2 separate regions of the Homo sapiens genome follow, and region 1 is linked to region 2. The links come from fine-mapping of genetic effects on gene expression. A gene starts in region 2. The other region holds a variant in brackets. All regions are shown on one strand. Distances are from middle to middle. Region 1 has its middle 16 kb from the start of LINC02175. Region 2 holds the start of LCMT1-AS1 (LCMT1 antisense RNA 1).

The links.
Region 1: its variant is fine-mapped to the expression of LCMT1-AS1 in whole blood (TOPMed, PIP 0.93).

Annotation. Positions count from the first base shown.
Region 1 is chr16:25,080,489-25,085,868 of GRCh38, reverse strand. No RefSeq gene overlaps it. Among named protein-coding and RNA genes, the nearest start is that of LINC02175, 16 kb to the right of the region's middle. The variant G/C (reference allele first, on the strand shown) is at 3,170.
Region 2 is chr16:25,108,422-25,113,782 of GRCh38, reverse strand. It overlaps LCMT1-AS1 (LCMT1 antisense RNA 1), which reads left to right and starts at 2,228. Exons shown (of 3, transcript NR_120306.1): 1 at 2,228-2,387. It overlaps LCMT1 (leucine carboxyl methyltransferase 1), which reads right to left and starts at 2,041. Exons shown (of 11, transcript NM_016309.3): 1 at 1,787-2,041. The coding sequence starts at 1,899. RefSeq lists enhancers at 1,734-1,893, 1,984-2,313, 2,091-2,618.

The DNA of each region.
Region 1 (5,380 bases), 28 kb after region 2:
TGCCTAGTAGCATGTTAAGTGGTTTGCTTGGGTTGTTTCATTCAGTCCTCACAGCGGACTCGTGAATTAAGTGCTGTTATTATCACGTTTTTGCAGATGAGGAAACTGAGGCTCAAAGAAGATAATGTGCCCAAGGTCACCTCGCTAGGAAAGAGTGGAGCTGAGATTTAAACTGTGACTTTAAGCCCAAGTTCAAGGCTTCTTACTAGTTTTAACTACATTCCCATACCCCTTTTAATCAATCATGTAAATAAAATCTTAATTCTTTTAAAAAATTAATATGTGTTTCAGCTTGTCCTGTAGAGAAGACTAATACTTACAAATGGGAAATATTCGTCAAGCTTTATTTTTTCTAGTTTGTCTTATGAAATTAAGTTTTTCAGCCTTTCCCAATATAAAGCTATATTTTATATTAAATATGCTTTTTATTTATTTTTTTGAGACGGAGTTTTGCGCTTTTTGCCCAGGCTGGAGTGCAATGGCGCAATCTCAGCTCACTGCAACCTCTGCCTCCCAGGTTCAATCGATTCTCCTGTCTCAGCCTCCCAAGTAGCTGGGATTACAGGCGTGTGCCACCAAGCCCGGCTAATTTTTGTACTTTTTAGTAGAGACAGGGTTTCACCATATTGTTCAGGCTGGTCTTGAACTCCTGACCTCGTGATCCACCCACCCTTGGCCTCCCAAAGTGCTGGGATTACAGGCATGAGACACTGCGCCCAGCCAAGTCTTAGTTATTTCTACATGTAAGTATTTCATGATCCGTTTGTGATTTGGACATCAAATGCTGAGCATAATGCTTCGCTGACCTCACCTGAGACCTGCATCCACTGAATTTTTACTGTATGTGCTTAGGGCCGAATGTAATTAAAGTCTTGTTTATTTACTTCTTTTTTTTTTTTTTTTTTTGTAAATAAGGTCTCCCGTTACGCAAGCTGGAGTGCAGTGGCAGGTTAATAGCTCATTGTAGCCTCAAATGTAGCCTTCCCAGTAGCTAGTGAAGGCCTTTTTAGAGGGGCTCTTGCTTTGAACAGTAGCAAATATATATTTGCCATTTTTGTAGTGAGTGTCTGCATTTGTGCAGTAAATGAGCTCATGAGTAAACTGAGGAGTACATGGACTCATCTCCTCCTCTTTCTTTTCTTTTTTTTTTGGTTCAACATATTTCTGTTGAACAAATGTACATACACACTGAACAGCTATATCCTGTAGTTCAGTATATTTCTGTTGAATGAATGAGTCTCTACCACTTGTTTATAAATATAAACATTTATGTAATTTTAATAGTGAATAACATACATGTTTTGTAACTTGCTCTTTTCATGTCAGCATATACAGATCTGCATCGTTATTTATAATTGCTTTATTGTACTCCTTTGTGGAAATTCCCCTCTATTTAATCTATTTAATCTTAATAGAGGGGAAATTCCCCTCCATTTAATCTGTTCCCTACTGATAATCACTTAGATTTTTGCCTTTTTATTTTTTGTTTTGTTTTGTTTTCTTTTGAAACAGGGTCTCACTCTGTTGCCCAGGCTGGAGTACAGAGACTCGATCACAGCTCACTGCAGCCTCAGACTCCTGGGCTTAAGTTGCCCAGGCTGGTCTTGAACTGAGCTCAAGCAGTCTGCCCACCTCAGCTTCCCAAAGTGCCGGGATTACAGGTGTGAGCCACTGTGCCCAGCCTATGTTTTTATATTAAACAGTGTTATAGCAAATACAAGTATATGTGCATGTTTGCAGGAATCGCTAGTGCAGAGTTTGCACATTATGAATAGCCACTGCCAGGCTTTTCAAGTCCTTTTTTTACCAATTTACAGTTTCACTGAATTGGGTGAGGAAATTTCCTGCCCTACACCCTCTGTCTCACTTTGTTTTGTGCTGCTGTAACAGAATATCTGAGACTGGGTAATTTCTAAAGAACAAAGATTTATTCTTACAGTTCTCAACGCTGGGAAGTCCAAGGTCAAGGGGCCCACATCTGGTGAGGGCCTTCTTGCTGCATCATCCCATGGTGGAAGGTGGACGGGCAAGAGGGCATGCTTGCCTGCAGGAGAGGAAGAGGGGGGAAGGGGCCTGTACTTATTCTTTTATCAGGAACCCCTCCTGCGATAACTAACGCTTTCATGAGGGCAGGGCCCCGTGACCCATCCCCTCTTAAAAATCCGCCCCCTCAACACTGCTGGATGGGGAATGAAGTTTCCAACACATGAACTTTGGGGAACACAGTCAAACCATAGCATTCTGCCCCAGCCCCCCAAATTCATGTCCTCTCACATGCAGAGTACATTCATTCCATCCCAACAGGTTTAATGTTTTCATTTGTTCCAGCACCAAGTCAAGAGTCCAGAGTCTCATTTGAATCAGATACAGGTGAGACTTTGGGCAAGATTTCTCCTAAGGCAGATTCCTCTCCGCCATGGGCCTGGGAAATTAATGTGCTTCCAAAATATGATGGTGGGTCAGGCATAGGACAGCAATTCCCATTCCAAAGGGATTCGTTTCCTGTTGTTGCTGTAACAAATCACCACAAAGTTAATGGCTTGAAGAATACAAATGGATTATCTCACATTTCCGGAGATCAGAAGTTCGAACCAGATCTGCCTGCACTACAATCAAGGTGGCAGCAGGGCTGATGAATGCCTTCCTGGACACGTGAGGGGAGCATCTGCCTCCTCACCTTTTCCAGCTTCTTGGGTCTGCCCATGTTCCTTGGCCTCTTCCTGCATTTGTCAAAGCCAGCAGCATTTATGCTGTGCCTTTCTTCCAAAGTTGTGTCTTCACGGACTTCCTGGGCAACTATGAAGGACCTCTGTGATTACACTGGGCCTGTGGGGATAATCCACGCTAATCTCCCTTTATGCTGATTAGCAACTTTCATTCCATCTCCAACCTTAATTCCCCTTTGCTATGTAATCTAACACATTCACAGGTTCTGGAGATTCAGAAATGGACATTACTGGGGAGGGGAGAGCATTTTTCTGCCTACTCTAGATCCAAATGTCAACCCAAGGCTGAACAGCCCTGATTTCAAAGGACATATGCACACATGACACATATCCACACGTACATGCATTATACACACATACCTGTACACATTTAGACAGATATGTGGAGCATCTTTACAGGTCAGAACACAAATATACACCTCTACCTCCTTTTTATGGCTGCA[G/C]AGTAAGCCATTCTGTGGATATACCATGTTCTACTTAACTGCACGAAAGCAAGGCAGCACCACCAAACCCTCCAGCCTCATATTCAATCTAACTGAACTGTGGACTGAAGACAGCTCAAGACCGTCAAACCTCCACATCACAAACGGTTCCTCCAAGGCTGTAGGGATCTACTTGAGCCTTCATAATAGCCAACAGTAGCAGCCATATTTGCTAGGTGCTTTCTATGCCCCAGACACTCACTGGGTTGACACCTACATCTATTCTAATTCTCAAACCAGGCAAATCGGATAGGATCCACTATTACTCCCATTTTACATATAAGGAAAGTGAAACTCCAAGAGGTAACTTGCCCAGGACCCCAGCACTAATAAGTGGGATTGTGGGATTCAAACCCAGAGGGCTTGACTAGCCACCCCTAGACTTAGTTTATTTAAACCAGGGAGCAGACTACACCTGAAGGCTCAATCCAGCTCACTGCCCATTTTTTATGGCCAGAAAGCTCAGAAGAGTGGTTATTTTTAAATGACTAGAAAAAACCCCAAAAGAATAATAATATTCGGTAACACGTGAAAATTATATGAAATTCAAATTTCAGTGTACATGAAAGTTTTATTGGAACACAGCCAGGCTCCTGTGTTTATGTGCTATCTATGGCGGCTTTCAGGCTACAACAGCAGAGTTGAGTTGTTGTGATAGATACCGCCGTGTGATCTGCAGAGCTCAAAACTGACTCTCTAGCCATTTATCCTTTCTCCAGTCACAGAGAATCTGGTCCTCAATCTTTCTGACTGCTTCACGCTGAGAAGGGGCATTGTGGGATAATGACGAAGAACGAAAACGTCATGCCTATAGCTGAAGTACTCACAAGTGCCTGGCTGGCATCCAGCTTGATGGAACATGGTAATATGGGTCCTTTTATCTTGGTTTTAGAGCAACATTTCAAGCCATGCTAAGATGATTAATAACATAGATAACATCCGGATGCGGTGGCTCACACCTGTAATCCTAGCACTTTGGGAGGCCGAGGTGGGTGGATCACAAGGTCAAGAGATCGAGACCATCCTGGCCAACATGGTGAAACTCCATCTCTACTAAAAATACAAAAATTAGCTGGGCATGGTGGCATGTGCCTGTAGTCCCAGCTACTCGGGAGGCTGAGGCAGGAGAATTGCTTGAATCCAGGAGGTGGAGGTTGTAGTAAGCCAAGATCACGCCACTGCACTCCAGCCTGGCAACAGAGCAAGACTATGTCTCAAAAAAAAAAAAAAATAATAATAATAATAATAATAGCCAGTGTGGTGGCACACGCCTGTAATCCCAGCTACTCGGGAGGCTGAGGAAGGAGAATCGCTTGAACCCGGGAGGTGGAGGTTGCAGTGAGCCGACATCACGCCACTGCACTCCAGCCTGTGTAATGGGAGCAAGGCTCCATCTCAAAAACTAAAAATAAAAAATAACATAGATAATAAAAATTTTAAAAATACCACAGAATATGGAGTGGATCCCTTGGGAAATCCAAGAGAAGACTCAGAGTTCTGTGTTCTCTGTATGGTTTCTTATTTCAGGTCTTTGGCTGGGCTTTGAATACTAACTTAAGGCCGTAGAAGGGTTCACACAACCATGAGTGTTTCCTCTAGAGGGATCCAAGAGGGACTAGTTTTACTCCAGTACGGTGAGTCCATGGGTAACACTGGCAAACTTGACGGATGGGTGGGTGGTCAGCAGCACCGCAAAGGAGCTGACCCATTGTGCTTGCAGCTGGTCTTGAGCCTGGTGGGACTGCCAGGTCTTCAGCATGACCTGGTTCCCCAGTTTCAAAGAATAAAGAGGCACAAGGAATTGGAACCTGTTAGAAGCAAACTCAGAGACTAGTTAACATACTTCCTAATGATTTTATATAAGAACTAGCTTCTCTTTCTGGAGAGGAAAAATCCTCAAGTATCAGGGAATCTGGAGAAATGGTCTCCTGTACAGTATTTCAAAGGGGCTAAGAGCCAACCCATTTCTGGGGTATTCATATCTTCAGCAGGGCAAGGGGCAAGACTTTTCCCCAAGTAAGATTTGTCTCCTGGCAACTGGGGTTCCCTTGGTCACAAATGGGTCTGTTCAGTCAATGACGGGCTTAGGACTTTATTTTTAGTTTGGCCCCTTTTGGTCAAGATATGCCAGAGGCAGCATCAATAGCCAAGCTTTTATTTTGTCCCATATCA
Region 2 (5,361 bases):
GTGCCTGTGATCCCAGCTACTTGGAAGGTTGAGGCAGGAGAATCACTTGAACCCGGCAGGTGGAAGTTACCAGGAGCCAAGACAGCTGTGGCCAATAGCAACTGAAAGCCACAGAAGAAAAAGCTGAGTATAATCCACTCAAATTCACAAATTTCATAAGGGACTCTCTCTAAGACTTTAATACTTGTGTATTTATTAATTTAATCAATCACCACTTACATGGACTACATGCCAGACACTGCTCCAAGTGCTCTACTAATATTAAATATCATTTTTGTCCACACCCACCTATGATGCGTTATTATACTCCCCATTTTACAGATCAGGAAACTGAGCCACAGAAAAGTTTAGTAATTTCCCCGACTTTATACTGCCAGTAAGTGGCAACGCTCAGTTTGACAGAGTCTAGCTCCAGAATCCATGCTCTGAAAGTTTAGTCCCCAAGAACCTATAAAAAGTGCAAGGTTTAATCCAACACACTGGTTTTCCCCACTCTACAATCACTACGTGGCCTCAGCCTCCTTCTCCCACCTTTAAAGCATTTTTTGAGTTCCTCTAACAGTTCACACTCCTCTGAACACTCTCCTACAACTTTCCTATTTTTCAAGCCTTTTCTTCTCACTTTTTTTTTTTTTTTTTTTTGAGACATAGTCTCGCACTCTCATCCAGGTTGGAGTGCAATAGCGTGATCTTGGCTCACTGCAACCTCTGCCTCCCGGGTTCAAATGATTCTCCGGCCTCAGCCTCCCGAGTAGCTGGGATTACAGGCGCCCGCCACCACACCCAGCTAATATTTGTATTTTTAGTAGAGATGGGGTTTCACCATGTTGGCCAGGATGGTCTCGAACTCCTGACCTCGTGATCTGCCCACCTCGGCCTCCCAAAGTGCTGGGATTACAGGCGTGAACCACCGCGCCCAAACTCTTCTCACCTTAAACATCACTGACAAAATTACAAACTCTAATGGCACTGCCGTATTTGTCAGCACTCAACACAAAAAAATCATAATTATATATTTCATAGGTAATTATTTGCTTCCTGTCTCTCTTTTCCAACAAAGCTGTGAGTTCCAGTATGTCTGACACCATGTCTGTCTTGTTCTTGGTGTATTTCCACCATCGAATTCCTACTAACCACTGCAAAGTAAAGGCCTGGCACAAAGTAAGGTCTCAAAAAATTTTGTTGAATGAAAGAATAAATGGTGGACATTCAAGCCTCAAGCTTTCTCTTTCTCTGACACGTACCTCTGCTGGCTACGCCCCCATCCCCACCACCACACCCTTAACAGTGGAGACTTAGTGCGGTACTGGCTCTGCAAAGAGATATTACTTGGCTCTGGGTGGGTTATTTCCCCTCGTCATCCTGAGTTTCAGGTGCACAACAGGGATCACACCAACCCCCTAAAGAATGCAACCTACAAAAGAGAGAGAACCTACACCTCTCATCCTCGTAACCCATCGAGGCTGGAGCTACTATTTGCTTCATGTCTGTCTTTCCAGCAGCGTTTAGCTCCAAGAAGCCCAAGGCCTCGTCTGTCTGGCTCAGGGGCCTGCTCCCATCGACGATACCCAGGCTGGCCCCCTGCCTGGCTCACAGCAAAAGCTCAGAAACGATTCGTTAAATAAATGAAGCCCTGCTCCGTGCACTTCACAGGTGGGAAGCGAGGGTCGTGCGAGGCGGGGGCTGCATCCCTGCCAGCCTTGAGCGTATTCTTCAGATGCAGGCCCACCTCCCACCTAGGCCCGCGCCCCAGATGCCGGCCCCGAACCCCGCGCCCGACAGGCACCTCTTGCACAGGGAAGCATCTTCGCAGGTGCCGCGCACGCCCTCGTCGTCTGCGTCGCAGCTCGAGGTGGAACAGCAGGAGGTGATAGAGGATTCCCTCTGCCTAGTGGCCATGGGCGTGGAGGTTCCTGGGAGCTGTGTCCGCCAGGGACATGGAAGCGGGGTCGACGGGCGGCGGGGGACGGCGCGAGCCACAGGGAGAAAGCAACAGAAGAGGGTAGGGCCCTACCTGGCTCAGCTGGCGCGGCTCAGTGACGCCGCCCACGCCGGCTACCCCAGCAACCTCTCCGCTTATTGGCTCCTCTTCCGAGTCGCTCATTGAGCAATTCTCCTGCCCGCTCAGCCTACGAAGTTGCTCATTGGATAATTATTTTGGCACCGCCCACATAACCCGGAAATTTGACGATAGGAAAAAGAAACTAAACAGTAGGAGAGTATCGCAATCCTTTCTGGGAAGCGTAGTCTTAGGTGTCTGGAGAAGTCGCCCGGTTTCTGCTTGCTGGTCGCGAAATTTTATAGCTATAATTAACTCAGGGCGGAACAGCTAGCAGAATCCTCAGCGTTCGGGCAAAGGGCAGAGAATCCAGCCAGAAGCAACATGTGTAAGTTGTTACATTCAGTCCGGGCTCAGTGTCATTCAATTTTACAAAATTTTGTTGTGTGCTGACTCTGCCAGCGACTGTGCTGAGGGCTTTGCCCCCAAAATTGCCTTCGAAATGTAGTGAGGGGGGCGGGCGTAGTGGCTCACTCCTGTAATCCCACCACTGTGGGAAGCCGAGGCGGGCCGATCACCTGAGGTCAGGAGTTCGAGACCAGCCTGGCCAACATGGTGAAACACCGTTGTTACTAAAAGTACAAAAATTAGCCGGGCGTGGTGGCGGCCGCCTTAGTCCTGGCTACTCAGGAGGCTGAGGCAGGAGAATCGCTTGAACCCGGGAGGCGGAGGTTGCAGTAAGCCCATGTGGCGCCACTGCATTCCGTCCTGAGCGACAGAGCGAGACTCCGTCTCAAAAAAATAAATAAACAAATAAATAAAAGAAAGAAAGAAAAGAAATGTAGTGAGGGAAGTAGTGTGTGGAAAAGTAATACAATAGGAAGCCATGTAGCAGCGATCATAAATGAACTAGAGCTACCAGGTAGCAGCATCAATGGCTGAATCTCAGAAACACGATGTTCAGTGAAAGAAGGAAGTCTAACAACACTTTTGTAAAGTTCAAACCAAGTAAAACTAATGTTGTTTAGAGAAACGTACATATATGGTAAAATACTGTACAGAGAAGGCAAGACATGAGAAAAAAAAATAAAAAAGAATCAGGATATTGGTGATCTTTAGGGAGCCGGGAGGGTAGCACACAAGAGGGGGAGGGAGAGGCAGGGAAGGAGCACATAGACACATCCTCAGTTTCTCACGTGGGAGTGGGTTCACGTGTGTCTGTTTCATTATGAGGCATATTCAAGATGTTTTGGATTTATTTTGTACTAAATCTAGTACAAAATATATGTATAAATTCAAGATGTACTGGGGAAGTCGCCTGGTTTCTTGCTGGTGATGAAATTTTATAGCTATAATTAACTCAGGGCAGAACAACTAGCAGAATCCTCAGTGTTCGGGCGATTGGCAGAGAATCCAGCCAGAAGCAACCCTTGTAAGTTGTATATGTATAATAATGTTTAATATACATTATAAATTAAAAATGTCTTTGTATATTCCATTTTGTTATCTGTCAGTTGTTGGAAGCAGGAAACAGATATACTTTAAGAACTTTGAATTGCACTCATTTTTTTAAAAAGAAAATCAACAACAGAAACCCAGAATACACACCTTGGAGTGAGGTCAAATATCAAATGCTAGCTCAGTATTCTAATGGAGGCACAAGATCTCATTGATAGCCACAGTAGAAATGACAAGAGGGGAATGACTAAGGGTGGAGAGCTTTGCCAGGGGGAATGCTGATGGGATGAAATACACCATTTTCTTGGAGTGGTCCTTTGCCAAAAGGGTAATACAAACTATTGCACAAGCATCATCTCCCAGCTTAGCAGTGTCCACATTCCACGGGTGTTAGTGGATAGTAAGTGTTAACAGCAAGTACTATACGGTGTTAATCCCACAGGTCTGGACAGTGAGACTGGGGGTGACTGGAAGAAGGCGGAGGCAGATGGGTTTATACACTTTTGTTGTTGGATGAGCCTTTGATTCAAAATAGCTGGTGATTCAGAGGAATTTGGCCATCTTCCAGCTGACCTCCAGGGCCAGCTCATTCCATGTAAGTTCCTGGTTGAGGATCTGAAAGTTTATGACAGCGTGGAGTCTGGAGATTGCAAGCTTAGCCATCTCAGGCTAAATGATACCTTAATGCAAGAGACAATGCTGGGGTAGTCTTTGAGCCATATCCCAGCCAGAGAAAGTTCACTGCCAACTAGACTGCATCTTTTGACAAAGTCAGGAGAAGAGTTGTGGAAGTGTAAAAGCTCTTGGACATTAATATTGTGGGCCAAAAGTTAGGCATTCACCATGGAATCTCTCCCCAAAAGGCTACAATGGACAATTGTTGCTTTGGCTCTCCAGTATCTCTTTCTTCTATAAAAAATAGCTAGAGTGGGCTGGGCGCGGTGGCTCACACCTGTAATCCCAGCACTTTGGGAGTCCGAGGTGGGTGGATCACCTGAGGTCAAGAGTTTGAGATCAGCCTGGCCAACATGGTGAAACCTCGTCTCTACTAAAAATACAAAAATTAGCCAGGCATGGTGGCAGGCGCCTATAATCTCAGCTACTAGGGAGGTTGAGGCAGGAGAATCACTTGAACCCGGGAGGTGGAGGTTGCAGTGAGCTGAGATCGTGCCATTGAACTCCAGCTTAGGGGACAAGAGCAAAACTCCGTCTCAAAAAACAAACAAAAAGCTGGCATGGTGGCTCATGCCTGTAATCCCAGTACTTTGGGAGGCCGGGGCAAGTGGATCACCTGAGGTCAGAAGTTCGAGACCAGCCTGACCAACATGGTGAAACCCCATCTCTACTAAAAATAAAAATTAGCCAGGCATGATGGCGCATGCCTGTAATCCCAGCTACTCCGGAGGCTGAGGCAGGAGAATTGCCTGAACCCTGAAGGCAGGGGTTGTGGTGAGCCGAGATTGCGCTATTGTACTCCAGCCTGGGCAACAAGAGCGAAACTGTCTCCAAAAAAAAAAAAAAAAAGCTACAGCTTCTTATGGAAAACTAAGCTTCTCTCCTGGCCAGGCGTGGTGGCTCACACCTGTAATCCCAGTCACCGAGGCGGGATTTGGGAGGCCGAGGCGGGTGGATCATGAGGTCAGGAGTTCAAGACCAGCCTGGCCAACATGGTGAAACTCCATCTCTACTAAAAACACAAAAAATGGCTGGGCATGGTGGTGCGCGCCTGTAGTCCCAGCTACTCAGGAGGCTGAGGCAGAAGAATCGCTTAAACCCAGGAGGCAGAGGTTGCAGTGAGCCGAGATCGTGCCACTGCACTCCAACCTAGGCAACAAGAGCGAAAGTCTGTCTCGAAAAAAAGAAAAAGAAAAAGAAAAAAAAGCAAGGCTCCTTGCCTGACTCTA